Regions from separate parts of the Homo sapiens genome. Here all the other regions are linked to region 4. Evidence: fine-mapped expression QTL. A gene starts in region 4. Each other region holds a variant in brackets. All regions are shown on one strand. Distances are between the middles of the regions. Region 1 overlaps GCLC (glutamate-cysteine ligase catalytic subunit). Region 2 has its middle 5.2 kb from the start of KILH. Region 3 has its middle 12 kb from the start of KILH. Region 4 holds the start of GCLC (glutamate-cysteine ligase catalytic subunit). Region 5 overlaps GCLC (glutamate-cysteine ligase catalytic subunit).

Region 1 (5,000 bases), 27 kb before region 4:
GTTAATGGAAGAGAGTGCCTATTATATATATCAGGTACTGCACCTATTTTATAAGTTATATAGAGTAAGATGGGCAAATCACAGATACTGATGGTTAGAGAGGACAAAAAAGGAGAAATAACTAAGAGAAAAAAAAAATCCCAGTAGGCATTTACAGACCTAGGACTGAAAATAATCTCCCTATTAAAAGAGTTATTCGCAGTGGCTCAGCGAATAACTTTGTGACGACTTGGAGAATTGACAAATCAAGCCTGGTGCACGCATCAACAACCAAGAAGCCTGGGGGTACTGAAGATGTGAACAGGTGCACATCTGCTATCTTCTCTGGTTACTTAGGAAGAGAGCCAAAACTCAGTTAATGCTCAAAAAGGATTTCTAGACAGAAATACTATACTCTCAGAAGTCAGGGGTCTAGTGAAGGGCATCTGCATTTCAACACAAAGCCATACTCACCTGAAGCGAGGGTGCTTGTTTATTGCTTCATCTGGAAAGAAGAGGGACTTGGAAGCTCCTCCTTCCACTGGGTTGGGTTTGACCTCGGGCAGTGTGAACCCAGGACAGCCTAATCTACAACAAATTGAAGAACTAAATAGATGGGATTTGTTTTCAAGAATTAATTGTGTGCAGTCTTGCCATCACTGCACCTGCCAAAGACACCTCATTTCTAGTATCCCCTTTTCAGAGGGCTTTGTGTTTACAAAACAGATGTTGTGTAAATACTGTGCCCCTTTACAACCACTCCCCACACTTCTTGCTCACAAGGATCTTCTTTTAATTCCAGCCCACTACTAACTTTATCCAAGTCTCCACTCACTCACAAACCACACAGCACTTACTCGGGTCCTCTCCATCTCTTCATCTAATAGGAAGGACTGATAGCACAGAAGTCATTTCCCTTGGTCACATCAGCTGTCATGGGTGACAGGTGTCCCCTACATGGCCTATGAGGTGTCTTCCTTTTCCATCTCTAAACTCTCAGATTATCTTTGGACCTGCTGCATGGCACCACTGCCTCCCACTTCCTGGTAGGCTCTGAATCTGGAAGGAGCCTGTTTTTTGCCTCTATAGGTCACCTCATGAGTCCCTCAAGATTAGGGAGTGTCTCTGCAGGTGTCCCCATCTACCCCTGAGATCACCCTCTGAAGTCTGAAACCCAATCCTATTCTCTTACTTGACTTAAGGAGCTCTAATTTCAACACAGAAAAATGAAGCTCCATATTTATTCCTAAGTGTAAAGCTCAAATTCTACATCACTTTTAGTGATGGCCCCAGTTTTTCCAAGTTAGGAATTTGAGGTCAATATTACATGTGCTGTGAGGGAGGACAAAGACTAAGCGAAAGCCAAACAAGGGAGGAGTTTTAAATTAGTGGGAAGAAACTTTTGGCTTGAGGATCAAGACTAGCTCATATCTTTTAAAAAAAAATTTTTTTTTTTTTTTTTTTTTTTCTGAGAAAGGGTCTTGCTCTGTCTCCCAGGCTGGAGTGCAGTGGTGCAATCATAGCTCAGTGCAGCCTTGAACTCCTGGGCTCAAGTCATCCTCCTGCCTCAGGCTCCTGAGTAGCTGGGATTACAGGCATGAGTCACTGTACCAAGTTTTTTTTTTTTTTTTTTTTTTTTTTTTCCAGGGACGAGGTCTCACTATGCTACCCAGAATGGTCTTTAACTCCTAGGCTCCAGTAATCCTTCTGCCTCAGCCTCCTAAAGTACTGGGATTACAAGCACGTGCCACCTCACCTGGCCATCAATGCCTTATTTTTAACCCCTACCTTTTCTTAATATAAAATAAAGTATCTGTTGCCTGCCCAAATCCACCTTGTAAACAATTGAAGGTAGTGATCTTATCTAGAAAACAGTTCCCAGCTACAAGGGTTCTTGAGAATTCTTGAAGCTATGTGCATTATTTACTATGAGCCTA[G/C]AACCTTAGGAATAGTCCTTTGGGAGAGTAATAAACTTAAATCTGAGGGGATTCCTTGCTCACCAGAATCAGATTGGATGAAGAGAGAATGAGAATGTGTTTGTGTGGAAGGGAGAAGGTAGAATCAGAACTTGCATCTTCGGACACCTACGGCACTGCTTCATTCTAGAGCAGTGCTGTCCCACAGAACTTTCTGGAGTGATGGAAATGTTTAATATCTCCACTATCCAAACCGATGTGGTAGTCACTAACCACGTGGCTACTGAGCCCTTGAAATGAGGCTAGTTCCTCAGTCACATCAGGAACTACAATTTTCATTTTATATAATTTTAATTTTAAATAGTCACATGATTACTGTTTTGGACTAGAGTTCCACACTATAAATCTTTGCATCTTTATAAAGTCACCCTGTTTACACTTAAGAACCAGAGCACTCCTTTCTCTCTTGATCCTATACTACAACAAAACTTTATCATTTATTGTGGATGTATAGGGAGGCTTCTAACCACTAAATAACTAATAATTATTGTTTCAAGTCCCAAAATACCTTCCTATATGGACAGGGTATAAAAAATTATACATATAATTTTTTCTAAATTACAGGTTTTTAGAATAAAGCTTATTCCTCTGTCTCAACTTTCCCTTCACAATGACTTAAGATGCTGAATCTTTTTATTTTTATTTATTTATTTATTTTGAGACGGAGGCTTGCTTTGTCACCCAGGCTGGAGCAGAGCGGCACAATCTCAGCTCACTGCAACCTCCACCTCCCAGGTTCAAGCGGTTCTCCTGCCTCAGCCTCCGGAGTAGCTGGGATTACAGGCGCATGCCACCATACCTGGCTAATTTTTGTATTTTTTGTAAAGACGGGGTTTCACCATGTTGGCCAGGCTGGTCTCGAACTCCTGACTTCAGGTGATCCGCCTGCCTCGGCCTCCCAAAGTGCTGGGATTACAGGTGTAAGACACCATGCCCAGACACTAAATCTTTTTTAAAAAGGCAACTATCCCATATGGAACCATTCTCAAGGTAAAGGGCACATTAGGCTTAACCCAAAACTTTATTTTCTGGCCCAGAAGGAAACACCACTGCCCATCAATCCTATATATTCTTCAGCTTTAATATATAAAACAGTTCTGGTTTGTGTTACAAATCCCCTCCCACTTTCTTAATTTGCTAAGTGAAATGTACAACCCTCTTAATGTTAAGGGGAAAAAAATGAACATATAAGGTATTAAATTTTCCAGTTCACTAGAAGTTGTCATTTAACATCTGTAACCTACTCCTTGGCCTCTACTCTAGTACTCTTAAGGTTTTCAGGACAATGACCTATAGCAAAAGCCTTGATGTGTCTTCTCTCCCCAGCAGTTCACTGACTCTGTCATCTTTTAAACCACCCACTTTTCCTATCACCAGCACCCACGGGCATCCAGGCAGCCCTTGTCTCCCCTCAGGGAGCTCCCTCACTCACCTCCTAGTAAGCCCTGGCACCAGCTCCACAGCTACTCTCACACTACAGCCCAAGTGAGGGCTGCAAAGCAAAAAGGGGATGCCATCTGCCCAACCCAACCTTTCCAAGGCCTTCAACTGCTTTTAGGAGAACAACTAAAATTTATGGTTAACCTGACCTGGCCTGCCAATTACCTGCCAGCTTCCCTTTACCCCATACCTGCACTTCCTCCTCAGCCTCCTAGTCACACTGGCCAGCTTGCTTTCTTCTAGTTCCCAGGAAGTCCCCGCTTGTTTGGTTCATCCTAGGACTTCTACACACACTGCTCCCCCTCCCTAAGACTGTCCTCCGCTCCTCATTCCTATTTCACTCCTCCTGGAACCTTGGACATCCCACCCCCTCCCCCTCCACCCACCAGAGTCCACTGGATACCTAGGTTGTACTCTTTGCTCCCCATCTCCTCCTGCTAGCACAGCCCCACTTTGACGCTTATGAATCTATGGGTATTTGATTGTTCTTCAACCCCCCAGCTCCACAGAGACAGAGCTGTCCGTCTTCACTCATGAGAGCATGCCCATTCTGCCTGCAGCAGGCACTCAAGTGTCTGAGTGAATGGCAGGGCCAATGATTTTTCACCTCCTCTTTCAAACATTAGGTCGAAGAAATGTGCCCACTCTAATCAAAACAAATCTGTCCACCCTCACCCAGCTGGGTTTTTCCTTCTGGGGGTGGAGAGAGAAGTGACCTGTACATACAGAATGAAGGTATCACAGAAATAGAGATGCTTCTATAAATGTTAGATGGCTGGCTTAAATAAGTTTTCAACTATTTAGATGTTACAGTAGAGATATAAAAAAAAAAATAGAATTCCCATTTAAATGCCCCTCTGAGGCCAATGATATGACCCTGAATGGCTGACGGACACGTATCAGAGAAAAGGTATAAAAATAGTTCAAAGTGTTCTCCACCATTGATACCAACCCCCAGAGCTCCTTTGAACTTTGAGGAGCTAAGTATACTGTCACCATCTGACAGACATCTAGCATAGATAAATCACATTCATGTTTTGGCAGAAATGTATTTTTACATAGAGGTTCTATGTATAATACATATGATATTCATGTACCTCATTCTAAGCGAAGAACATAATTTCACTATTTACTTTTATGTACTTTTGGTCATAACTAGATTTGATGACAAACCCTAAATCTTCTTTTCAGAACAATATGCAAGGACCTAATGACTCACGTTGTTCATAGAGCATCGGTATCGATAGTGCTTTGGGAGCACTGCAGATCCTCTGATCTGCCACTGATGCCACCATATGCTAGCAGGTAAATGCTGCTTTTTGAAAGTGCATGAGGGCGCAACTGTCACAGTCACCAGGGGACAGCATTCCAGAAGCTTTGGCTACTGCTTACAGGGTCAGAACTGTGTGGCAGGCGTGCTGCTCCCTCCACCCTCGCCTGCGGCAGACACGGCCACACTGCTGGTCTGTCATCACAGTATCCTGGTCTTTCCCACTGAGCCCCCACTGAGTGCACTCACCACGGTGCAGCCACCACAGCTGACAGAAGCTGGCATGCAACTGTGTCTGCAGCTCTACTGTTACAGAGTCTATCAAGTGCAGTCTA
Region 2 (6,554 bases), 33 kb after region 4:
TGTATGATGGGATCAATGAAGAATAGGCTATACATGGTGAAATGAATGGAATGCTTACATCCCCCCTAAATTCATATGTTGAAATCCTAACCCTTAAACTGATGGTATTAGGAGGTGAGGGCTTTAGCATGTGATTAGGTCATGAAGGTAAAGCACTTGTAATTGGAATCAGTGCCTTTACAACAGGGACCCCAGAGAGCTAGCTAAACCCTTCCATGATGCAAGAACACAGCAAGAAGGCACCCTCTATGAACCAGAAAGTGGGCCTTCACCGGACATGGAATCTGCTGTGCCTTGATCTTGGACTTCCTAGCCTGTAGAAATGTCATAAATAAATTTCTGTTGTTTATAAGCTACCCAGGTTATGGTATTTTATTATAACAGCCTGAAATAGACTAAGACACATGGTCAACAATAGATATTTAATTTTGATGGGATGTTAGTTTTTCAAGGTGGGTGAAAAAATAAGCTTAAAAAGGTAGGCCAAGACCAAATTTAGGAGACCTTAAATCCTTAAATGCCAGCCTTTGGACTGACATAGGACTTTTTTTTTTAGAGTCTCATTCTGTCACCCAGGCTGGAGTGTAGTGCCGTGATCTTGGCTCACTGCAACCTCCGCCTCCCAGGTTCAAGTGATTCTTGTGCCTCAGTCTCCTGAGTAGCTGGGATTACAGGCATGGTGTGCACCACCACGCCTGGCTCATTTTTCTGTTTTTAGTAGAGACAGGGTTTCGTTATTTTAGCCAGGCTGGTCTCCAACTCCTAGACTCGAGTGATCTGCCCACCTTAGCCTCCCAAAGTGTTGGAATTACAGTCATGAGCCACTGCACGTGGCCTGTTTTGTTTTTCCTGTTTTCATTTTCCAGTTTTCCTGTTTGTTGAAGATTGGTCCAATTATACTCCTTAGTTTATTTCATACTTTGGCCAATGGTCTGTGTTAGGCTCCTCCTTCTCCATCATTCATTCATTTTTATTTTCTTTTATTTCTGCCTTTGATTTCCATCCCCATCACCCACCAATGGCAGCAATTCTTGGGCACTTGATATTTATGCTTTTCTTTGTATGTGTCTTTATTATATAAATACTATTGTATGCATGCTTTAAAAATATTTTTCTGCCAATCGCGGTGGATCATGCCCAGCACTTTGGGAGGCTGAGGCAGGCAGATCACTTGAGGTCAGGAGTTTGAGACCAGCCTGGCCAACACAGTGAAACCCTGTCTCTACTAAAAATATGCAAATTAGGCCAGGTGCGATGGCTCCGCCTGTAATCCCAGCACTTTGGGAGGCCAAGGCGGGCGGATCATGAGGTCAGGAGATCGAGACCATCCTGGCTAACATGGTGAAACCCCGTCTCTACTAAAAAAAAAAAAATTAGCCAGGCGTGGTGGCGGGTGCCTGTAGTCCCAGCTACTCGGGAGGCTGAGGCAGGAGAATGGCGTGAACCCGGGAGGTGGAGCTTGCAGTGAGCCGAGATCGTGCCACTGCACTCCAGCCTGGGCGACAGAGTGATACTCCATCTCAAAACAACAACAACAACAACAACAACAACAACAAAAAAAACGAAAATTAGCCAGGCGTGGTGGCACGCCTAGAGTCCCAGCTACTCAGGAGGCTGAGGCAGGAGAATCGCATGAACCCAAGAGGCAGAGGTTGCAGTGGGCTGAGGTCGCCTCACTGCCCTCCAGCCTGGGCAACAGAGAAACAGACTCCGTCTAAAAAAAAGAATAATAAAAAGTAAAAATAAAAAATGGAAAATCTCAAACACAAAAAAGTAGAATATTATAATGAACTCTCAATTATCTACCATCCAATTGTAATAATGATAAATTATTGCCAAATCTTGGTTTATCTCTATCCCCATCCACCCATTCCTTCCCCTCAGGTTATTTTGAGGAAAATCACAGATATTATATTATTTCATCTGTAAATATTTTAGTATAAATCTTTAAAAGATACGGGCTTTTTGGGGAGGAAACATAACTTGAATGCTATTATCTTCCTTAAAAAAGGTGGTAAAGGCTGGGCACAGTGGCTCGTTCCTGTAATCCCAGCATTTTGGGAGGCCGAGGTGGGAAGATCTCTTGATTCCAGGATTTTGAAACCAGGCTGGGCGAGATGGTGAAACCTCATCTCTACAGAAAATACAGAGAAGTTAGCTAGACATGGTGGTGTGGGCCCGTAGTCCCAGCCACTTGGGAGGCTAAAGTGGGAGGATTGCTGGAGCCCAGGAGGTCAAGGCTGCAGTGAGCTGAGATAGCACCACTGCTCTCCAGCCTGGGTGAGAGAGCAAAACCCTGTCTCAAAAAAAAAATTGTAGTGAAAATTTTGAAAATATTTCTTAAATAAGTGGTGTTCACATTTCCTCAGTATTTCTGCAAAATATCAGAGGATGTTAAAATTATTAAAATGTATAAATTTGGGCTGGGCATGGTGGCTCATGCCTGTAATCCTAGCACTTTGGGAGACTGAGGCAGGTGGACACTTCAGTTCAGTAGCTCAAGGCCAGCCTGGGCAATACAGGGAGATCCCGTCTCTACAAAAAATACAAATAATCAGCTGGGCATAGTGGCTCGCACCTGTGGTTCCAGCTACCTGGGAGGCTGAGGTGGGAGGATTGCTTGAGCCCCAGAGGTTGAAGCTGCAGCGAACTGTGATTGCACTACTGCACTCCAGCCTAGGCAACAGAGTGAGACCATGTCTCAAAAAAAAAAAAAAAAAAAGAAAATCTATAAATTTGGTGAGTTGCCCTGAAGAGTTGGAACTAAGACTTCTTCGGTTATGTTGAGGCTGGTTCTGGGAACATTGGAAATACTGCAAACTGGAACCAACTGTTGCTACTGGAACAATACTGCTACTACTGGGGAGAATAGGGTTGGTGTGATGGTAATGGTTCCCTTTTAGATTTTTCGGTTCTTTAGAACCCGGCTAACTCTGTTTCTGCCTCCTGTATGGACTCACCCTGATGCTACCAACTCATGTCTTTTTGTCTCCTCCTCTCCACTACTGTGTTGATATTATTTAGAATTTTAGTTCTGGATTATTATGCTATAAATATATTTTTATTTCTCTCTCTTTTCTTTGTTCATTTTTGAAAATAAAAACAGCATCTGAATTTCATATGTCTTTATCAGATAAAAATTCTATTTTTCATTTATTATGTTTTTTGTTAAAAAACAGCTTTATTAAGGTATAATTGACATATAATAAACTGCAAATATTTAGAACGTATGTTTTGGAAAGTTCTAAC[G/A]TAGGTATACACTCTTGAAACCGTCACCCTAATCAAGATAATGAGCATACTTATCTCTACCTTCCCCCTCCCGCCACCGTCAAACTTCCTTGTGTTGCTTTGTAACCCTGCTCACCCACGCCTGCCTGCCTGTTTCCCCTGTTCCCAGGCAACGACCCATCTTCTTTCTATCACTATAGATTAGTTGCATTTTCTAGAATTTTTTATAAATGGTTAAAACAGTATGTACTCTCTTTTATCTACATAGCATAATTATTTTGATGTTCACTTATGTTGTTGCATGGATCAATAGTTTATTCTTTTTATTGCTGAATAGTATTTCATTATATAAATGTGCTACAATTTGTTTATCCATTCGCCTAGTAATAGACATTTGGATTATTTCCAGTTTGGACTATTACAAATAAATTTGCTATGAACATTTATATACAAGTCTTTTGTGAACATATGCTTTTTTTTCTCCTGAGGTAATTCTTTGGAGTCGAATTCTGGATCATCTGGAAGGTGTATATTTCACTTATTTATTTATTTATTTAGAGACAGGGTCTTGGTCCGTTGCTGAGGCTGGAGTGCAGTGGCATGATCTCGGCTCACTGCAACCTTCACCTCCCAGGTTCAAGTGATTCTCATGCCTCAGCCACCTGAGTAGCTGGGATTACAGGCGTATGCCACCATGCCCAGCTAATTTTTTTGTTTTTAGTAGCGATGGGGTTTCGCCACGTTGACCAGGCTGGTCTTAAACTCCTGTCCTCATGTGATCCGCCCACCTCGGCCTCCCAAAGTGCTGGGATTACAAACATGAGCCATTGCCCCTGGTCTGTATATTTACCTTTTTGGGAAACTGCCAAACTATTTCTAAAGTAGTCATATTAATCTGTTCGCTTTGCTTGAGGCTGGGTAATTTATGCAGAAGGGAGGTTTATTTGACTCACAGTTCTGCAGGCTGTACAAGCATGGCACTTTGCATCTGCTCAGCTTTTGATGAGGCCTCAGGAAGCTGTTACTCATGAGGTGTAGGGGGAACAGGTGTGTCACATGGTGAAAGCAGTAACAAGAGAGATGCCAGGCTTCTTTAAACAACTAGCTCTTACACAAACTAATAGAGAAAGAACTCACTCATCACCAACGGGATCGTGCTAAACCATTCATGAGGTATCCGCTCCATGATCAAAATACCTCCCACTAGGCCCCACCTCCAACATTGGCGTCACATTTCAGCATGAGATTTGAAACTATATAAGTAGTTGAGTCATTTTACATTCCAACTAACAGCATGTTAGAGTTCTAGCTCCTTTAAAGCTTTGGCAACAGTTGGTATGGTTAGTGTGTGGTGGTATTTTATTACGGTTTTAATTTCCATTTCCCTAATGACTATTGGTGTTGCCTGTCTTTCATGTGCTTATTTCCCATCCATCTACCTTCTTTGGTAGAGTATCTGTTCAAGATAAACCACATTGTGCACCATAAAATGTCTCAATAAGTTTAAAAGGGTTTAAGTCATATAAAGTGTGTTTTCGGACCACAATGTTATTACATTAGAAATCAGTAACAGAATAATATCTGAAAAATCCCCAAATATTTGGCCCCAGTGTTGCTGTTAAGAAATCTGCTGCCAAATCTTCTTGTATCTTTGGAGGACATATGCTCTTTTTTTCCTGGAAGCTTTTAGTATTTTCTCTTTCTCTTTGTTCTTAAATGTGCAATAATCTTTCTAGGTTCTTAATCTCTCCTATTTGGCATGCAACCCTTTCCATCTGACTTCTTTTATCTTTAATTTAGAGATAATTGTTTTTGTTATTCTCTTAAATATTTGTCCTCCCTTTATGTTCTCTTCCTTTGGACTCCTGTTTTCAGGATGTCAGCATGTCTACTTTTATCCTCCATGGTATTTAACTTTTTATTTCTGTATTTCTCTCTTTATCTTTTTTTCTGCCTTCTGAAAGATGTCCTCAGTCTGCTCTTTCAGTTTTACAATTTTTCCTTTGGCTGCATTCAGCTTGCTATTTATCCCATCTAGGAGTCTTACTTGGAAGCATAATTTTTTATACTTTATGTATAATGTCTGTCTGTCTTTATGACTTTTTTCCTGCTTCCTATTACCAGTAGCTTTTTGACAATATTGATTGTGCTTATTTTGTTTCAGTTGTTTGAGACAGTCTCACTCTGTCACCCAGGCTAGAGTACAGTGGTGCAATCTCAGCTCGCTGCAAACTCCACCTCCCAGGTTCAAGTGATTCTCCTGCCTCAGCCTCCCGAGTAGCTGGGATTACAGATGGCCACCACCATGCCCAACTATTTTTTGTATTTTTCGTAGAGACAGGGTTTCACCATGTTGGCCTGAGTGGTCTTGAACTCCTGACCTCAAGTGATCTGCCCACCTCGGCCTCCCAAAGTGCTGGAATTATAGGCATGAGCCATCGTGCCCAGCGTGGTTGTGCTTATTTTAAATTCTTAATTTGTTTGTTCCAGTATTTCTGCTTGATATCGTGTATGTTCAGTGTGTGTTTTTCTTTTTGCAGTGGTTCTAACCTCAGGTATTTTAAGCTGTGAGCTGATGTTCCCCTGGAGTTATCAGGTACCAATGTGACATACCAATACCAGGTCCTACTTTCTGTGTTCCTTATGGTTTTAAGATTAAGGAGTTGAGTCCCAGAGAGTCCCTTAGGTGTTGGAACGATAGTCAACAAGCCATCTGTTGCCCCTCCACTAGGCATTACTCTGCTAGGGATTCTCCTCTAAAGCCTTTGAAAGGGAGCCGGTAGTCATCTCATAAGTGATGCACCATTTACCACACATGAGGAGGACTGGAGGAGTGAGTGCTCAGGGAAGCTGGTCAGCCTCCCCTTTTTAGCGTGGGTGATTGCTGCTGCCTCCTGACTCACAGTGGTTATGGGACAGGCAATGGTCCAAAGGAAAGAGGAGAGAAAAGGAGAGCAGAACCTAGCAGCACTCTACCTATTATTCTAACTCTGCATTCCTCCCCACCCAAAGTTTATGATGGCCTTTAGTGTCTCCAGGAGTTTCTCACAGTTTTTTTCTAGGGCTGATTCCCCAGGGCATCTGTGGCCTGTGCCTGATCTTGTCTGTACTTCAGGGGCCAGCAGTGGGGGATAGGTTACTGAAAGTTTTTGAGTTTTGCTGTGAGAAGATTAATCTTTCAGCAGAGTGCAATAAAAGGAGGAAGGAAACCCTGTTACTAGTTTAAGTAAGCAATAATGGAGATCTGGATTAATAGTTTGTATGTTGAAGTGAGAAGATTTTTTTTTTAAGTATAAATGATTTATTTGTTAGTTGAGCCCAAGCTT
Region 3 (6,554 bases), 40 kb after region 4:
GTTTTCTTTTTCTCAACTTTTTTTTTAGAGTGGTTCTCTTTCTTTTTTAAATTTTGTTTCTGTTTTCTTTCCTGTTTTTAAAAATAAAAATAGAGACTATGATCAAATATCATTGCATATGTTCCTATTACTGGGTTGAAAGTTGGTAACTGAAACACTACCTTTATTCTGTGATTTTTCTAAAAGCAGGCTGGATGAACTATTTGTTATCCTTTTTGCAATTGTTCAGTGTGTTTGTCTCTCCACAGAATGGTAACTGGCTGATCTCCATTTTCATTTCAGGTTAAAATCAAGGAAATCAATTTGAACTGTAGCACGCAAGTTTTATGTTAATTACAAACATATGAAAAATGTTCAGTTTTAAGTAAGATAATGTTGTTTATTTTTCCCCCTGTCTTTTATGCCTCTAATTCTGCTATAAATCATATGTAAAAAGAATTTGGTGAGACGCAGTAAGAATTCTCATAAAATGCTGATGGGAAGGAAACTTCTGCTGACCATGAAGGATACTTATAGATACAGTGTAGCTACTCCCCCTGTGCTCCCACCCCCACCATATACCAGTGGTTCTTAAACTTTAACATGCATCATAATCACCCAGAGAGTTTGTTAAAACAGGGATTGCTGGGCTCCACCTCCAGAGTTTCTGATTCAGTAAATCTGGGGCAAGCCTTGATAATGTGTTTCCTAACAAGTCCCCAACTCATAGTGACACTACTAGTCCAGGGATCAACTCTGAGAATCACTGCCATATACCAATATTTCTCAGTACTGACTGCACCTGGGGATTTTAAAGAGAATACAACTGCCAAAAATTACCAGTGCTCAGGTCTGTTCCCACTGATTCTGATTTAATTGGTTGGGAATGAGGCCAGGATACCTGTATTTTATAAAAGTTCTTCAGGAGATTCTAAGGTATACTTAGGTTCAAGAAGCACTTCCTTACACTCAATCTCCACCCGTCATTCAGAGAAACTCATGTAGTTTCTGTTTCACCTTCCATTAAAGCCTTCAATGTTAAGCTATTATCAAGATATTTTTATATAGACTGGGATGCCTATTAGTCTTAGTCACCACCAAAATGTAAGTCACTAAGTATTTATCCTCTCCCTTACTCTTACTATTTCTCCATGATTTCTCTCCACTAATCCATACCTGCTCCTACTTTGCCTTCCACCATGAGTAAAAGTTCCTTGAGGCCTCCCCAGAAGCAGACGCCGCCATGCTTCCTGTACAGCCTGCAGAGCCATGAGCCAATTAAACCACTTTTCTTATAAATTACCCAGTCTCAGGTATTTCTTTATGGCAATGCAAGAAAGGACTGATACAGGTAATAAATCATTCATTCATTCAAATAAAGTTACCATAGTGTTGGGGATACAGAAAAGAGACAGCCCCTTAAGGAGCTCAAAGTCCTCAGAATACCCTTCCTTTATTGTGATTTAGTGCCACTTTTGAAGACAAAAAAGAAGTAAGAGTCTTATTTCGTGAACATGTGGCAAATGTATGACTCATTACGTTTATGGTTCCACTAAGTTTAAATTAGGAGGAAGTTCCTAATAAGTATTTTTAAGCAAAAAATAGTTGTGATCGATTGTAAAATTAGACACAAATTATCTCATCTCTTTATGGATACCCTATGCAATGTGAATTTGTGGTCTTCCCATCATGAGGTGAATTCTATTTCTCCACCTGGTGAATTTGGGCTTGGTCATGTGACTTGATTGGCCAATGGGACATTATTAACAAATAAATGCACTGCAAGTAGAGGCTTGAAAGGTGCTTGTGCATTGTTGGGGCTTGCTGTCTTGCTGCTCTTCGAGCCTTGAGATAACCATGTGAATGAGCCTCTGGATGAAGAGAGACACAGGGTCATGCCATCCCTGTTACTCCAACTAACAAACACCAGCCACCAAACCTAAGTCGGAGGCTCTCTTAGCCCATCCAACTCCAGCTGAACCACCAGCTACCATACAGATGTGTGAGTGAGCCAGCAGCCAGCAGCTGTGCAGGCCCAGACCGAAAGAACTACCCATTGGAAAGTAGGTGTTGGATTCTTTCCAATCCACAGAACCAAGGACAATAATACATGCTTTAAGTCACTACATTTTGGGGTGCATTGTTATACAGAATATATATATTCTATTGTTATATAGAATTTTTAGTTATCTTAAAATTTTTTAAAACTTAATTTAACCTGCTGTGACTACTGGATTAGGATGATTTCAGAAAGTAAAAATAGAGTCTTAAAATGTAACATTTCTTGCAGCTGGCTGTCGGTTCTATTGAATTTTTACCTAAGGATTTAAATGAATTAGTTGACAGAGATCTTTATTTTTTATTATCTCTGGTGCACAGCGTGAAGTTGAAGTTGGGCGAGGGGTAAAATTTTCGGTTAGTAGCTGGATGAAAGATCAGCCGATTCTCCCAGCTTTTAGTCTTGCTCTGCCTAGTACACTATCAGTCAGCATTTGCTTAAGGAGTGGTTGGTATTTACTGCTTTTCAGTTCAACAACAGGCTACTTTTTAAATATAAAAATTACCACTCTGAGTTCTATCCACCATCCACTCATCTCTCAGTCACTCATTCCTGCTATGCAACGGCTCCAAGGGATATATTCTAGGAAGCCATAATTATAGTCCTTGGCTGTAAATCCATTGGATGCAGCAGTTGTCTCTGTGCTGTCTCTCTCTCACTTGCCACTCCTCAACCCATTGTAATCTGGTTTCTGCTCTCCCATGCTAATGAAACCTTCTCACCAAGGCCACAAAGAACCTGGTATTGCTAAATCCAATGGATACTTCT[C/G]AATTTCTATTTTAACCTCTTAGCAGCATGTGACATTGTTGATCACTCCCTTCTTGAAGAACGTTACTCCCTTTGCTTCTGCTATACCACTATCTTCTGCTCTTTTTCCTGTTACTCTGACCATTCTACAGTGTCTGTTGAGGGCTCTTTTGTATCTCCCCATCTTTAAATATTGATGTTCCTTCAGCTTAGGTCCTGGGCCTTTTCCTCTTCTTCCTCTACACACTCTTCCTGTGCAATCTCCTCCCTTGCATAGCTTTGATTATCTTGTATGTATTCATCTCTTCCAAAGCAATGTCTCCAATTGAAGTCACTCTCCTGACCATCAGAAATCCAGCCATCTACTGAAAAACATCTCTTGGATATCTCTCAGGCACCTACCTCAATCTCAGTATGTCCAAAACTGAAGATTGAAACCTCCGCTTCCCCCACCCGCACACTGCTTTTTGCTCCCTCAGCTCTTTTTGTATCCCATCTGCAGTGTCTGACATGGCTGTTTACCTAGTTACCCAAGAGAGAAACCCAGGCATCATCCTTGAGTTCTTCCATCTCCAGTTCATTCATATGTCCCACCAGTTCTATCCCCATGAATAGTTCTTGTTTAAATCCAGTTCTCCTCATCCGCACAGCCACATTACCATGTTACCCAGCCCCGAGCCATCCTCTTCTCTTGCCTAGATTATGAAGCAGCTTTGTAACTGGAGCACTTGCCCCGGCCTTGCCACTTCCCCTCCATTTTCCACACAGCTGTCAGAAAGACCTTAGAATGCAAATCTGGTTATGAACGTCCCTTCTGTTAAAACTCTTTAATTTCTTTCCACTTCCCTTTGTATAAACACCCATACAGTTCACGATTTAAATTAGGGGAATGATTCATAATGTGCCTAACTCTCCAATCTAATTTCTTCCAAACTTTGTCATCTAGCCAACCTAATTTCTTTTGGTTCATCAGTGTTCTCTTCACCTCTCAGCATTTGAATATGTAGTTCCTTTTGTCTGGAATACTCTTCTCCCCTCCCTCCCCTATTTGGCTTGACTAACTCTAATTATTCTTTCAGGGTCCAGGTTACATGATCCATTTTCTGAGAAGCTTTCTCTGATGTCTCAGGTCTGGAAACCCACCCCCTCCAGCACCTCCAGGGATTTCCTCCATCACTGTTTTCTGAAATGTGTGCTTTTCTCCGGGAGGCAGACCACATGGGATTTTCTCAACTTTAAAGCTCCAGCAACTACCACTGGCCCCGGCACACATCACCCTCATAGTTGTGCTGAATTTAATTAAATGTTAGGGTTGTTTTTCCTTTCTCTCTCTTTATTTATTTATTTATTTATTTATTTATTTATTTCTCTTTCTTTGTCTTTTCTTTTTTTTTTTTAGACAGGGATCTCATTCTGTTGCCCAGGCTGGAATGCAATGGTGTGATCCTGGCTTATTGCAATCTCCTCCAAAGACCAAATCTCCCAGGCTCAAATGATCCTCCCACCTCAGTCTCCCAAGTAGCTGGGACTACAGGTATGTGCCACCACCCCTGGCTAATTTTTGTATGTTTTGTGGAGATGCAGTTTCACCATGTTGCACAGGTTGGTCTTGAACTCCTGAGCTCAAGTGATCCTCCCACCTCGGCCTCCCAAAATGCTGGGATTACAGGCATAAGCCACCGTGCCCAGCCAGAGTTGTTTTCAAGTTATCTATTTCTTGTAGCAAATTAATCTGAACATTTCACTAATGAAATTATTGTATGTGTTCTTCACTCTAATTATATATTTAGACTGTAACAATATTTTAGATAATAATGTTATTTTTCTTTATTGTGGTAATTGTAATTGGCTTTTATTCTTCCAAAGTAATTACTTTTTGTTTTAAAATATTTTCTCTCTTTGATGTATCTAGATTATGTCAATATGGCTGTCTTAAATGACCACATTAGAAAAAAATTAAAAAGGAGCCAGGGCAGTGGCACACACTTGGAGTCCCAGCTACTTGGGAGGCTGAGAGGGGAGGATCACTTAAGCCCAGGAATTCAAGTCCCAGCCTGGGCAACACAGCAAGACCTCATCTTGAAAAAAGAAAAGAAGAGAAAAAAAAGAAACAGGCCAGGTGAAATTAGTTTTAACAGTATATTTTATTTAACCCAATATATCCAAATTATTATGATTTCTTTATATAATTATGTAAAAATTAATGAGAGATTTTACTTTTTTTTCTTACTAAGTCTTTGAAATCTGATGTGTAATTTACACTTTCAGTCCACCTCATCTTGGACTAATCATTTTCAAGTGCTTAGCCACACATGGCTAGTGGCTGACATATCGGACAGGGCAGCACTATACTCTTCTCAATTCTCAAGTATTCTAATCACACAGTTTTCTTCTCCATCTTTCTCCTTCTCCATCTTTCTCCTTCTCCATTTCAGAAAATGCACGCTCCCAAATCATGTGTCTCTAAGCTAAGGCCCAGCCTTTCAAAACTGAAATGCCAAACATTTGATTCCATTGTTATTTTCACTTTGCCAGGTGTTACCTGCCCTGAAGCTTTAAAGAACAATGCCCTGGATGACTTAATCTGAAAGGGCAAGGAGAGCATGGAAATGTGAGTGGGTGCATGTGAAACTGTGTTTAAAAATATTATCCAGCCACACCTATAGTAATTTCTAGAGCTTAATTTCTCCATTTACTTTCAAGAGCCCAATTTCTCCATTTACTTTATAGAGCTTAATATCTACCTTATAGCATGTAGCAATCATGTAAATAGCAAAAAATGATTTGTTTTCTTTATAGTTTTAGTTTTGAATTGTCTATGTTGAAAATCAAATGTTTGTTTTCTAAATTTTTGTATAGTCTTGAAAATATTTTTCCAGTCTGCCAGAGTTTTTAACCTCCAAATTTGCTTGGCATGTTTCACCCCAAACTGTCTAGCATGCACTGAAAAATTATAATTTTGTAAAATAAAAGATCACAGTCGCAACTGTTTGGTGACTCCTCATGGTTTGCAGTTTTATTTTTTTTTTACTCTGAAAAGCACATGTTTATTTTTAGCATTTTTCCTTTTTTAATCTCAAAAAGATAATTAAAATCAGGAGGACCACTTGTGAAAATCTCTATGTGTAGATATTGCTAATATTCTGGACCCAGGAAAAAGATGGGTTGAGGGCATTTCTCTATAGTCAATTTTTTTTTTTTTTTTTTTGAGACAGAGTCTCACTCTGTCACCCAGGCTGGATTGCAGTGGTGCCATCTCGGCTCACTGCTACCTTCACCTCCCGGGTTCAAACAATTCTCCTGCCTCAGCCTCCCAAGTAGCTGGGACTACAGGCATGCACCACCATGCCTGGCTAATTTTTTTGTATTTTTAGTAGAGATGTGGTTTCACCATGTTGGTCAGGTGGGTCTCCAACTCCTGACCTCAGGTGATCCTCCCACCTCGGCTTCCAAAGTGCTCGGATTACAGGTGTGAGCCACCGTGCCCGGCCGAGAGTCAAATGTTTTTTAATGTTTACTAGGTACTGCGTGGCAGTCAGGCCCACAGAAGATGAGGGTACAATTTGAGAGGCACATGAGGGCTACAAACGAGAGCATGTGTGAACTGTATGAATAAGTGTTTGTGATTGGTGGGTATATGGGGCACCTTTTACATTTCACTTGGCATCAACAGGTGCAGATACGTCCTGGTAATGCCTCAGATGCACCGCATATCTCACGCTGTTCTGTTACTTCTCTGTTCTTGCTGTGTGGGTGTCCTCAGAAACCC
Region 4 (6,382 bases):
CCAATTTTCTCTCCTTTATAGATGCATAATACAAGTTTGCATTATGGCCACTCTTTTCCAAGCCCCTTGATCTTTTGGAGTGGGAAGGAGGTAAACCTATTGCAAATCTCTCCATGAAAGCCTGTTAAAGCAGAGACACGTACTTCAAGGCTCTACTCTTCAGCTCTTCCCACTTCAATTTACCCAACAACTACAAAAGTTACTTAAAATAGGTAGTTCTAAATGCTCTTCCTGCCAACAGGAGAGGCCTTTTTTAAAAGGGTAAGATTAAGGATTCCTGGAGTGTCTTGCAGGAATACACCAAATGGGACAAAGATGGATAAGGGGTGGTGGGGGGTGGGGTGTTGTCTCCAGAAGGAGTTGCTGAGCTCCAACTGTGCTGCAAATTTCCTGTTGATGTAGTTCTACCTGGGACAATGACTACCAAAGACTTGAACTGCCTGTCTTTGTAGAGAGACCTAGTTAAATGTCAAAAGCAGCACAGGGCCCGGCACATTGGCTCATGCCTGTAATCCCAGCACTTTGGGAAGCCGAGGCGGGTGAAAAGTCAGGAGTTTGAGATCACCCTGACCAACATGGTGAAACCCTATCTCTACTAAAAATACAAAAATTAGCTGGGCGTGGTGGCAGGCACCTGTAATCCCAGCTACTCAGGAGGCTGAGGCAGGAGAATTGCTTGAACCCGGGAGGCTGAGGTTGCAGTGAGCCGAGATCACACCATTGCACTCCAGCCTGGGCGACAGAGCAAGATTCTGTCTCAAAAAAAAAGAGCAGCACAAAAAAATGTCAAACTTTGAACTGCTCTACAATGACTAGTTACCATACAGTGGGAACTTGAAATAGTAGTTCATTCACTCATTCATGCCACAAGGACCTGATGCCAACTACACCAGGCACAAGGCTGGGCTCTAGGAAAACAGAGGTGAACAAGCATAATGTCCCTGCCCAATTTCGTCTTACATTTTCCTGTGACACACAATACAAAAATGAATATACAAAATGGCAGATGCTGTAAAGAAACTATGAACTTTACAGTAAAACTGAAGAATCATCACCAAAACACATGCTGTGCTTTTTCTGTTCAAAGAAGTGTGACAAACCACTTTTTGTAGAAATGTGAATTACTAGTCATCATACTTTCCTAATTTAAAACAGCACAATTTCTTCAGCTGTAGGAGGTAGAATCCCAATCTTAGAAAAAAAAAAAAAACTAACTTTTTGAAAGGAGATATTCTGCACTGGTGTAACAGCACGTCAGCACTTAGGCCAAGATTGATAACAACACTGGCCAAAAGATAAACAATTTACACAGGTGGCAAGCCATCTAAGGCAAAAGCTAAAAACAAAAACAGAGATGGACTTCTCAAGAAGTCATTTAATGTGTACTGCATACACACGTAATTTTCAAAAACAGAAAGGGAAGGCACAAAAAGTTTTGGCAGATGACACTAAATCAACAGTTTTAACATTGCTGCATTCCAGATCATTCCAATAAACAATGGTTCAACCTACTGAGAATCTAGAGACATTTCATCTCTAGGCAGAACACTGGTTTGTAAAGTTTAGTTGCTGGACCTAGGCCATGGAAAGACACAAGCAAATCCTAATGTTGAAACTCTAAATGCATTCCCACTTAGAATTAAACAGGAAAGGGAAGGTTCCTCCCCCATGTAGGAAACTGAGCCGTAATTTACTGGTTTCAATTTATAGCTATGAAGTGTGTGTGTTTTGGAGGGGAGGGAAGATGAGAAGTTGGAGAGGTTTAAGGAAAAGACACCTGCATGAGGTAGGGCAGAAGTGGACATCCTGAAGACCTGATTTCTAAAAGCAGCAGGCCTACTAGGAAAACTTAAATCTCTTTCATATTGACCGCAAAAGCGAATTTTGAGCCTGTAAGGTGGATCATGGTAGTTGCCGGTCTGCAGATACACTAGGTTGAAGACTCGCAGCACCTAATGTCACTTTTTCATGCTCACGCCCTCCCAGCGCCCAATCCGTGTTTATGGAATGAAGGGGAAAACCCAAAAGAATGAATGAACAAGAAAGGAGTCTAGTCAGGAGGATGGCCCTGGACGCGGACTAGGCGAAAGCAGGGACGATGCTCCCGGGGCCGGGAGGCGCTCGAGGACCCCCGGGCGCAGTGGAGAACGCGGACCGCGATAGGGCCGGGGGCGTAGGGCAAGACAAAGGCAGCGCGGGCGGCCAGACACGGGTGCCCGGCGGGGACGGGGACCGCGGGCGCTCACCTCATCGCCCCACTTGAGAACGTCCTTGTGCCGGTCCTTGACGGCGTGGTAGATGTGCAGGAACTGGAGGATCCCGTGCCGCCGCACGTGGTCGGCATGGCGCTTGGTTTCCTCCCAGCTCAGCGGCGAGCCCTGGGACAGCAGCCCCATGGCCGCCCCCTCCTCCTCCTCCTCCTCCTCCGGGCTGACGGCGGTCGCCCGCTCCGGGCGCGAGACGGACACTCAGCCGCCCGCAGAAGGCGGCTGCCGCTCCACCCCGCGGGGGCGCTCTCGGGCCGCAGTCGGCGGAGGGAGGGTCCTGCCCGCTCCGGCTCCCCGGCGGCGGCCCCTGGCGCCCAGGTGACAGACCCTGGGTCCGACGCACCGCGCGGAGGCGAAGGCAGAAGACCGAGAGCAGGCGGGACGGCTCTCGGCCCGGCGGCCTCGCCCTCCCCGCTGCTCCTCCTCCCGCTCCGATGCGGCGGCGGCGGACCCCACGGCCGCGCTGCCGCGGCGGCTCCCGCTTCTCTTTGCCGGTCTGGTGCACTGGCTTCTTCCTACTTGTGACCAAAACCTGCGCCGCCGCGGAGCATGCCCAGTCTTTGCGTCCGCTAGCTCGCCGCTCCTGGGCGCGATCCTGCGCTCCAGGTTTTATAGACTACGGGCGAAGGCGGGGAGAGGAGGCGGTGCAGCGGCGGAGGCGTGGCCTGAAGCCCGGTGGGAACCGCGGGGGCTCAGGAGGCGTGTGCAAGGGTGATTGGGTCGCAGTTGAGGGGAGCAGCTCGCGAGAAGGGGGCGTGCGGTCGGCCTCGCTTTACGCAAACGCGACATATCAAAATGCATTTTTTTTCCTAATCAGAAGAGATAAACTTGGGATTCGGGAAGAAAGTTGATTATTTGAATCAATGACGAACTCACCATATTATGTTTTAGTTGGACAGGGCCTCACACTTAGAGTGAGAGCGGCAGAATGTGTTGAGAAAAGTATTAACATGGTAGTGAAGTGAAACAGTTCAACTCTAGGCTCCATCACTTACTGACTGTGAGACTTGGGACGAGTTCTTCCCATATCTGCATAAAATTAGATTAATTCTATCTTTTATAGATGTCGTAATTATGTGCATAGTGTACATGTGTATAGTGTTGGCCAAAAAATTGACCTGGTTATTAAGAGGAATCAATTTGTCAACATGTGTAAATCATTATTCCCTACTGTCTTGATTAACTGGTGACCTATGTTCTCTGGATGGCACGGACACCATTTATTGCAAAAAGTCTCCAGACAGACCATATGAGGAACCATCTCCAAAAGTTTATCCTCCATCTAAACCTAAAATTCATCCCTTAAGTGATCAAAATGACGTTCTTGTGAGCCTACCGTGGGGTGGGGTTGAAGATAGTGGGAACACCTAGAGTTGGCCTTATCTCGGAGGGAAAGGAGAGGAAGGAGGTACCGTGCCCCCAAGTGATTGTTTAATAAATATGTGTTGACAGAGCAATGACCTGTCAGGGGAAAAGTGAAGGCAACTAGATCATACATGTACCTACCCAGAAAGTGTGTATTTATCATACCCTCTTCCCTCGCACTACAGAGTTAACATTTAGTAAGCACTTATTAATTGCTAAATGAGTGAGTACATGATAGCAGGATTCTCTTCTCCCACAGCCTTCATATTGGATGTGCCCCTCACAGGGCTTGGGGGCATGAATACCCAAGGTCTGGCTGGGATTTCCACAATGGTGTGTGTGTGTGTCTGTGTGTCTGTGTGTGTGTGTCTGTGTGTGGTAGGGATGTTTGAAGCTCAGGAGAAGATGTTTCCATCCTCATCACACAGGTGGGATAGAAATCAAACCACATTCTAATTTTTCCACAGCCTTTTCAACAACCTCCTTTGCCCTCCCACCAACCTCACCAGATCTGTATATGGTTCTGGCACTCTGTTGTTTTTCCTGCTTGAAATTCTCCATCTGACACACTCATGTTCATCTCTTGAGTCACAGTTATTCCTCTCTGTGTTTTGGTTGCATTCGTACATTAATGATAGAGTCATTTTAAAGATAGCTCCACACTAAATAGTGAATTCCTCTGGGGCACAGATGACTTATGCCTTTTGTACCTTTAATTCTAGAAAAGTGCTTGGTATAGAGTGTGTGCTTAATAAATGTTAGCTTCTCCGTGAAAAGCAGGTAGTGGGAGAGGGGGAGAAACAGTGTTTCCCATGTAGGTAAGACATCCAAGGATCATTGGGTTATTCTCATAATGTCATCTGACATTCTCATAGACCTGCATTGTTCAACACGACAGCCATCAGCCACATTGGCCAATGTACATTTGAAATGTGGCTAACATGACCGAGAAACCAAATTTTCATTTTAATTTAATCAATTTAAATGTAAATTTAAAAACTGATATTCCATTCAGTTACTGGAAAACTTTTAAGTAAATTTGAAACAAGTTGGAAATGTGAATCCATTTTTGACTGTAAATTTTATGAAATGTAATTACAGATCAAGTATTTCCAATGAAAACTTAGTGGCCCAGATGTGTTGTGAGTGTAAGTCACACACCAGATTCTAAGACAGTAGAATAAAAAGATGTAAATATCTCATTAAAAGTTTTATATTGATTACATAGCGATATAGCATTTTGGAAATTTTGAGTTAAATATGATGTGGTATGTTATTTAATTTACCACCACCCCCACCCACTTTTATTTTTAATTTTAAAGGAGGCTACTGAAAAATTTAAGATTACATATGTGGCTCTCATTCCACTTTATTGAAACAGTACTGATGTAGACCTTGATTTACACTTTGCAAAGCAGTTTTCCCATACACCTGCTGCACACCATACACTTTTCCCATGCACCTGTTAGGAATCATGGACCTGGGCGGTTCAATAATAGACTAAATTCTAGTCTAGCCAAAGCCCTACGCGACACTGAACCTAGTAAGAGTTTAACACTGTAATTGGAGTTACTCTGTCCTAGATCCCGGCTCACACTCACATAAGGGACCTCCCTCACCCTATCCTACCCCCCCGAATTCTGAACCAGCTCCCCCAGCGGGGGTCCCAGAGCTTTGGACAATCCCAAAAAGGGCGCCGGCGCTGCTGCACCACAGGGCAGTTATGCCCAATTTAAACCTTGATCTCTCAGTGTCTTTAGCCTTTTCTGTTACAAAGAAAAAACAAAAATCCCATCACGGATCAACTGAAGTCATATTTAACAAGAGTTACTCCCCTCTGACAATGCTTTGCCTGCATAGGTCCACTACTGCTCGATTTCATTCTGTAGACTGCACCCAGGGCCAGGTTTCGACATCTGGAAGTGAGTTTTCAGCAGACAGCTCCATCAGGGCTGTAACGATAGCTGAAGGGGAAAGAAGGAGCTCATATCTTGCAGAATCAGCTCTTCCCTAGACCATGACCAAAGGCCGATTCCCAGTAGTGTCTTCCGCGGAAAAACGCGAGACCCGCTCTCCAGGAACCCATCTCTGCCCAGCGGCGCCCTGGCACCGCAACCTCGCCTCGCAGCCCCGCGGACCAACACAGGCCCCGCCCCCAGAGCCGTCCGGAAAACCTGGACCGTGGAGATCCGCATGGGGGGACGCCGTGCAGTCGTGAGGCCAAGCTGAGCATGCTCGGAGAGCCGGCCTGTCGCGGGAGGAAGCGGTGTGGGCCGCGGGCGGCGCACGCCGCGCAGTTGTTGTGATACAGCCCCCGCCACGTGACTGCGCGGGCCCGCCTCCCCCGCGCGCGGCACCGCCTCCCCGTGACTCAGCGCTTTGTGCGGGCTCCGAGCCGGAGGTCAATCTGGGGGAGGCTTCTTAGGGCAAAGTCTCAGTCCATCACTCCTGACCTCTGGGCTGCTGCTGCTGCTAGGATTGCCGCAGTCGTTTCAGACACGATGGGTTTCGGGCCTCCAAGGACCAAAAAATACATCATTTTCTCTGTGGTCACGCCATTCCCAGTTTCCCTTGAGTCAGCGGCTTCGCGAGATCAAATAAGGAAAACAGAGAGAGTGCCCAGGGGACTCTGAGGAAGGCACTTCTAGGTTATCTGCCCCTGCCTTTACCGCTCTCTTTGGCTTGAGTATCCCTTGACCTTGGTGGTCTGTCGCTTGGGTCCCAGTATATCACATTCTATGCCAGGCACT
Region 5 (5,000 bases), 36 kb before region 4:
GTGTTCTCCACAGGTACAGAAAACTGCCTCCCCATGTTGGTTTGTGAAGTGAAATGCATATAAAACAGAGGATTCCAGACTCTCAGAAGTCAATACATAAATAAATAAAAATAAAACTGAGAAGATACCTCAAAATGGTCAGACTCATTAGCATCATCCAGGTGTATTTTCTCTTCAAACAGTGTCAGTGGGTCTCTAATAAAGAGATGAGCAACATGCTGGGCCAGGAGATGATCAATGCCTGCAAAAAGAGATCACATGGGAACTCACTGCAAAGCGAGAGATACCACTTCCTCTTAGTCCAGAAAGACGACAGGATAGCTCAGGAAGTTTGAAGAAAGGGTGTCTAGAAGCTTGAAATAGCTGGTTTGATTAGTATCCTCACCTCACCCAGTATTTTATCCTGCGGACACTGCGGGAGTGTCAGCGTTTTATTCACTACTTACACAATGCCTGCTGGGGCACTGGTGTGGACCTAGACACAGACCTCCAAAGTAAGCTCCTTTTGCTAAAAATCAAGAAAATCTCACAAGTATTTGGAACCTGAAACTTTAGGAACAAGTAGCCTCATGAGAGAAGTTAAAGACTTTGCACTAAAAATAGAAACCAGACCAGGAGTCAGCAAAAAAGTGTAAAAGAGCTTTGAAGAACTAAAGGCGTACATTCAAACCCAGAAAGATGGAGTAGAAACCCACCTTCCTGCAACAGCTGTTCGTAGATCTCTTTATCTATCGTCAAGTCGATGTCATTATATTTCTCACCACACTTAGATAAATAGCTGTCTATTGAGTCATATCGGGATTTACTGATCCTATAGTTATTGTTCTTCAATGGCTAAAGATTAAAAATATATATAAATGAATATGCTATATAAAATGAGTGGAATATATTTTTATATATGATAATTATATAAAAACCTCAACATAAGATACAGAAAAAAAGTTAGTGAGCCCTAAAAAGTATTATTAAGGAAAATTATGTTTTTTAAAATCTGAAGGCAATTTAAATACCCTTTTTTTCTGGTATGATTTAAATATACTTTTATCTTTTAAAAGCAGATCACTTTCATTCTTATTAAGCTAGGGAAAATAAATACTAAGGTTAAAAGCAAATAAATAAATAAATCTATAACGTAAGATAAACCTATCAAAATAATTATCCTTTAAAGTTTATTTCTACTTAGAAAGCATGTTCAACAATTTATGAACAATTACATGAAGACCAGAGCAGTAGTAGTATAGCCCTGGTTGAGAATATCAAAACCACTTATGAGGGCTCCTTTAAAAACACCCTTGTTCGGGTCCCATCCTAGAGATTCTTATTTAGTAGGTCTAGGATAGGGTCTGGGTGTCTATTTTCAAAGATTTCCATGGGTGGTTCTGATGCACACCCCTTGTTGGAGAGATGCAAGGGTTACTTTACAGTTCAACATGCAAACAAGAGGTGCCATCTCACCCTTATTAGTCAATGCCTAACCTTTTACATGGAAAAAGAATCTCTGACAACAAATTATACTTTCCACAGCAGAAAGCACCATATACAAAACACTCATGTGGCACCAAAAAGCCTTTTGGTAAAAACAGCCATCAGCACTTCCAAAATATAGAAAAATCGGACTACTAATTTTAAATGAAGCTAAAACAAATACAGACATCAACATACGATAAAAATTAACTCCCCACCTAGACCAAATCTTTTTCCCCATTTCAGATAAAAATTGCAGGGAGACATCCTGAAATTGCAAGTAGTTACAAAAGATCCATTTTACCTGCTTGACTTAAAAGGGCTATTAAGGAAAAACAATTCCCACCTCCAGTCCTCGCTCCTCCCGAGTTCTATCATCTACAGATGCAGAAATCACTCCCCAGCGACAATCAATGTCTGACACATAGCCTCGGTAAAAGGGAGATGCAGCACTCAAAGCCATCTAAAAACAAACAAAAGTCAGCTCCTGCAAATTCAAAGTGTCACTTACATGCTAAAAAAAGCTCCATGCAGTTATATTTCTGATCAAAAAGCATGTTTATGCAACCCATACAGA[G/GCTCCAC]CACATGTACCTGTGCCTATCTTACAGTGAAATATACCAGGAAGAATCCAGTTCCTTGGGTTTGATTCACTTAAATCATCCTCTCTCTAATGTGAGGACATGAAGTATGGGGGAGGGAAAATGGCCACATTCAAACTTCACATTTAACAAATCAATGTTGTACTAGCAAGAGTAAACTTCTACAGTGTAGACTCTCAGTTCATTATACCTAAACCTACATACTATTTATATTAGTCCATCTCTGACTGAGGTCTTAACTGGACTTAAATAGCACACTGTCAGTAAATTCTGCACATGCTATCTTATTTCATACGAAGTAGTATTTAAAATAAGAGGTAATTTCTACTTACAACAATTGGACAGATAGTAGCCAACTGATCATAAAGGTATCTGGCCTCAGATATACTGCAGGCTTGGAATGTCACCTGTTTAAGAATTGCAAAGTTATTAACACCAAGGAATCATTAGCATGCTCCCCAAGCAGTGAAGTCAGAGAAGGAAGGTGCTGGGCAGAGAGGGGCAAGTTAACAACGCTTCATTAATGGCAACATTTAACGCAAGAGTTTTGTTTAAAAGTTGTCTTAGGTGAATTTAACTAGAAAATGGTATTTAATTATGTTCCACTGCCTATAGACAACTAATATAAATAACCAAGGTCCTAAGTGAAATAAGATTAAATAGTCAAAAAAGAAAAATAAGACACAGACATACGATGATGTTTAGCAAAGCATTTTCTCTTCTACTGGCTTGTTGCCTTCCTATCCCTTCAGTCAGTGAGGGATGCAAAAGGGATTTGGACATGTTAACTATTGTTTTCTTTCTTTCTTCCTTTTATTTTTTTGAGATGGAGTCTCACTCTGTCGCCCAGGCTGGGGTGCAGTGGCGCGCTCTCGGCTCACTGAAAGCTCCACCTCCTGGGTTCACGCCATTCTTCCGCCTCAGCCTCCCGAGTAGCTGGGACTACAGGTGCCCACCACCACGACTGGCTAATTTTGTTTTTGTATTTTTAGTAGAGATGGGGTTTCACCGTGTTAGCCAGGATGGTCTCGATCTCCTGACCTCATGATCTGCTTGCCTCGGCCTCCCAAAATGCTGGGATTACAGGCGTGAGCCACCGCGTCCGGCCAACTATTGTTTTCAAACTTCACTGGTGGCAGTATGGTGAAGAGCTTGGAAGGGGGAAAGACTAGAAAGACAGGGAAGCAGTTAAAATACTGCACCTGTCAAGGAAAAGGCTGAGGAAAGATGTGGGGAGAGTGATACTAAAGTCAAAGTAGCAGGCACTGGTGACCAAGGGGAGACTGAGAGTAGGGGATGGCTTAGGTTTTGGCTTGGGTGTTCAGAGGTTAGAGATAAAGAGGTGTCATGACATGATGGACTTACGAGGCCAAGAGAACAGACAGAAAAAGAGGCCCTCTAAGTGGCTAGGTCTTCAGGGCTGGTGCCCAGAAGAAAAACCCGAGTTGTAGAAAGACCTGGGGAGTAGGCTCAGAGAATGTCCTGAAGATGGGGAGATCACCCAGGAAGCCTGCACAAGGATGGTAGGTAGGACACTTAAGAGTTAGGCAGAGAAAAGATCATATAACTTGGTGAGCATAAATTCTTTGTTACCCAACAGAAACCAAAAAAAAAAAAACCTGCTTTTTTTTCCAAGACGGTAGAAGGGGCAAGGAACACAAATTGTGTTTGTTAGCACATTTGTAATAACTGCAAGTTGGGAACAGTTTTAATCTCCTCTGTTGTTATTCAATAATGACAGTTTGAATTTCATGTTGTTATTCATTAATGACAGCTTGAATTTAGTGTTGGTACACGACATAATTTCAGTGTTTAAGACTTGAAATAACAGCAGCTAAGTGAATATTTTACTGTTATAATCTCAACCTGTTAGTTCCAATGGTTTTAGCTAGATCTCAACTTTGTTTTCCACAGCAATGTCTATTGGAGACTCAAGTTTGCCTGCTCAATTATAACCACATTTCATGTCAATGTGGAGACTGTATTAACTAGTCATTACTAATTTAATAATTAATTCAACACAGAGAAAAGCTGTGTCATAGGCATCAAAGAATAAGAGTTTCAAAGGTTAAAGTAGACACAAATTGATAAGGGTTGGCAATTAAGTCACTGATAACCAAACCAAGGGCAGTTTCTGCAAAGAGGTGGGAACTTGGAAATCGCTTTGCATATGGCATGAAATTACATGAGCAGTGAGGAAATGGGAGCTGGTACCCAAAGTCTTTATGCACTTATTTGCTGAAGTAGAAGCTCCAGAAGGGCGGGGATCTTTCTTCCCATTCTCTATCCCAAGTGCGCAGGACAGCATCTGATACCTGGTTAGTGCTTAACAAATGAGAATCTTGGAAAAAAAAAAGTGGGGGGGGGGTGCTAAAGAGGATGACATGCGGTCAAAGGTATAGTGAGAAACCTGAAAGACCGGGACCCCAAAAGCCAAACTGACAAGGCATTGAGATTTTAAAAAAACCAAAAAACAAAAAACTACATGTTTCCCAAGTATTTTGACTAAAGAATTATTTTGAACATGCATCTCTTAGATTTTTTAGGTCTTTTTTGTGTTGCTCTTAGGTATTTGAGTATGTGTCATTTTTGTTTTTAAAAAGATACTATGAGAAGCAGGTTTTCTTTCCAGTTTTTCAACTGGCTTCTCTTAGATGGCCTAGTATACAATACATAATTCGTAGGTGAATCCTGGGAAATTCAACCCCAGAGAAGTATACAACAGTGAAGTGACTTAGTTATTTTAAATGCATTTAGTAATTAGCTTTCTTAGTCTACAGCTGATATGCAATCAAATTAAATAGGACATCACTGTGGATAATGGCTTTAATGGAAGGAAAAAAAGTTCTTATACCTTAAAAAGCTATGAATACATGACTAATTTGGGCTTCTAGTGTCGTTTTGAGGCATCATATGAAGGAGACACACAATGTTGCTAGGA

Evidence for each region. PIP is the estimated chance that this variant, and not a neighbour inherited with it, causes the effect. A credible set is the group of variants that fine-mapping cannot tell apart.
Region 1: its variant is the best candidate, but not a certain one, in a credible set for the expression of GCLC in testis (GTEx, PIP 0.64).
Region 2: its variant is the best candidate, but not a certain one, in a credible set for the expression of GCLC in whole blood (INTERVAL, PIP 0.73).
Region 3: its variant is the best candidate, but not a certain one, in a credible set for the expression of GCLC in monocytes (TOPMed, PIP 0.89).
Region 5: its variant is the best candidate, but not a certain one, in a credible set for the expression of GCLC in left ventricle (GTEx, PIP 0.56).

The regions. Positions count from the first base shown.
Region 1 is chr6:53,515,656-53,520,655 of GRCh38, forward strand. GCLC (glutamate-cysteine ligase catalytic subunit) reads right to left here. Exons shown (of 16, transcript NM_001498.4): 4 at 454-567. Among named protein-coding and RNA genes, the nearest start is that of GCLC, 27 kb to the right of the region's middle. The variant G/C (reference allele first, on the strand shown) is at 1,917.
Region 2 is chr6:53,575,222-53,581,775 of GRCh38, forward strand. No RefSeq gene overlaps it. Among named protein-coding and RNA genes, the nearest start is that of KILH, 5.2 kb to the left of the region's middle. The variant G/A (reference allele first, on the strand shown) is at 3,250.
Region 3 is chr6:53,582,144-53,588,697 of GRCh38, forward strand. No RefSeq gene overlaps it. Among named protein-coding and RNA genes, the nearest start is that of KILH, 12 kb to the left of the region's middle. The variant C/G (reference allele first, on the strand shown) is at 2,807.
Region 4 is chr6:53,542,250-53,548,631 of GRCh38, forward strand. GCLC (glutamate-cysteine ligase catalytic subunit) reads right to left here and starts at 2,852. Exons shown (of 16, transcript NM_001498.4): 1 at 2,247-2,852. The coding sequence starts at 2,396. RefSeq lists enhancers at 1-597, 1,536-2,277, 2,116-2,175 and silencers at 2,396-2,825, 5,893-6,122.
Region 5 is chr6:53,506,785-53,511,784 of GRCh38, forward strand. It overlaps GCLC (glutamate-cysteine ligase catalytic subunit), which reads right to left. Exons shown (of 16, transcript NM_001498.4): 7 at 2,392-2,466; 8 at 1,811-1,927; 9 at 696-834; 10 at 129-241. It overlaps GCLC-AS1 (GCLC antisense RNA 1), which reads left to right. Exons shown (of 5, transcript NR_183318.1): 5 at 14-127. Among named protein-coding and RNA genes, the nearest start is that of GCLC, 36 kb to the right of the region's middle. The variant G/GCTCCAC (reference allele first, on the strand shown) is at 2,042.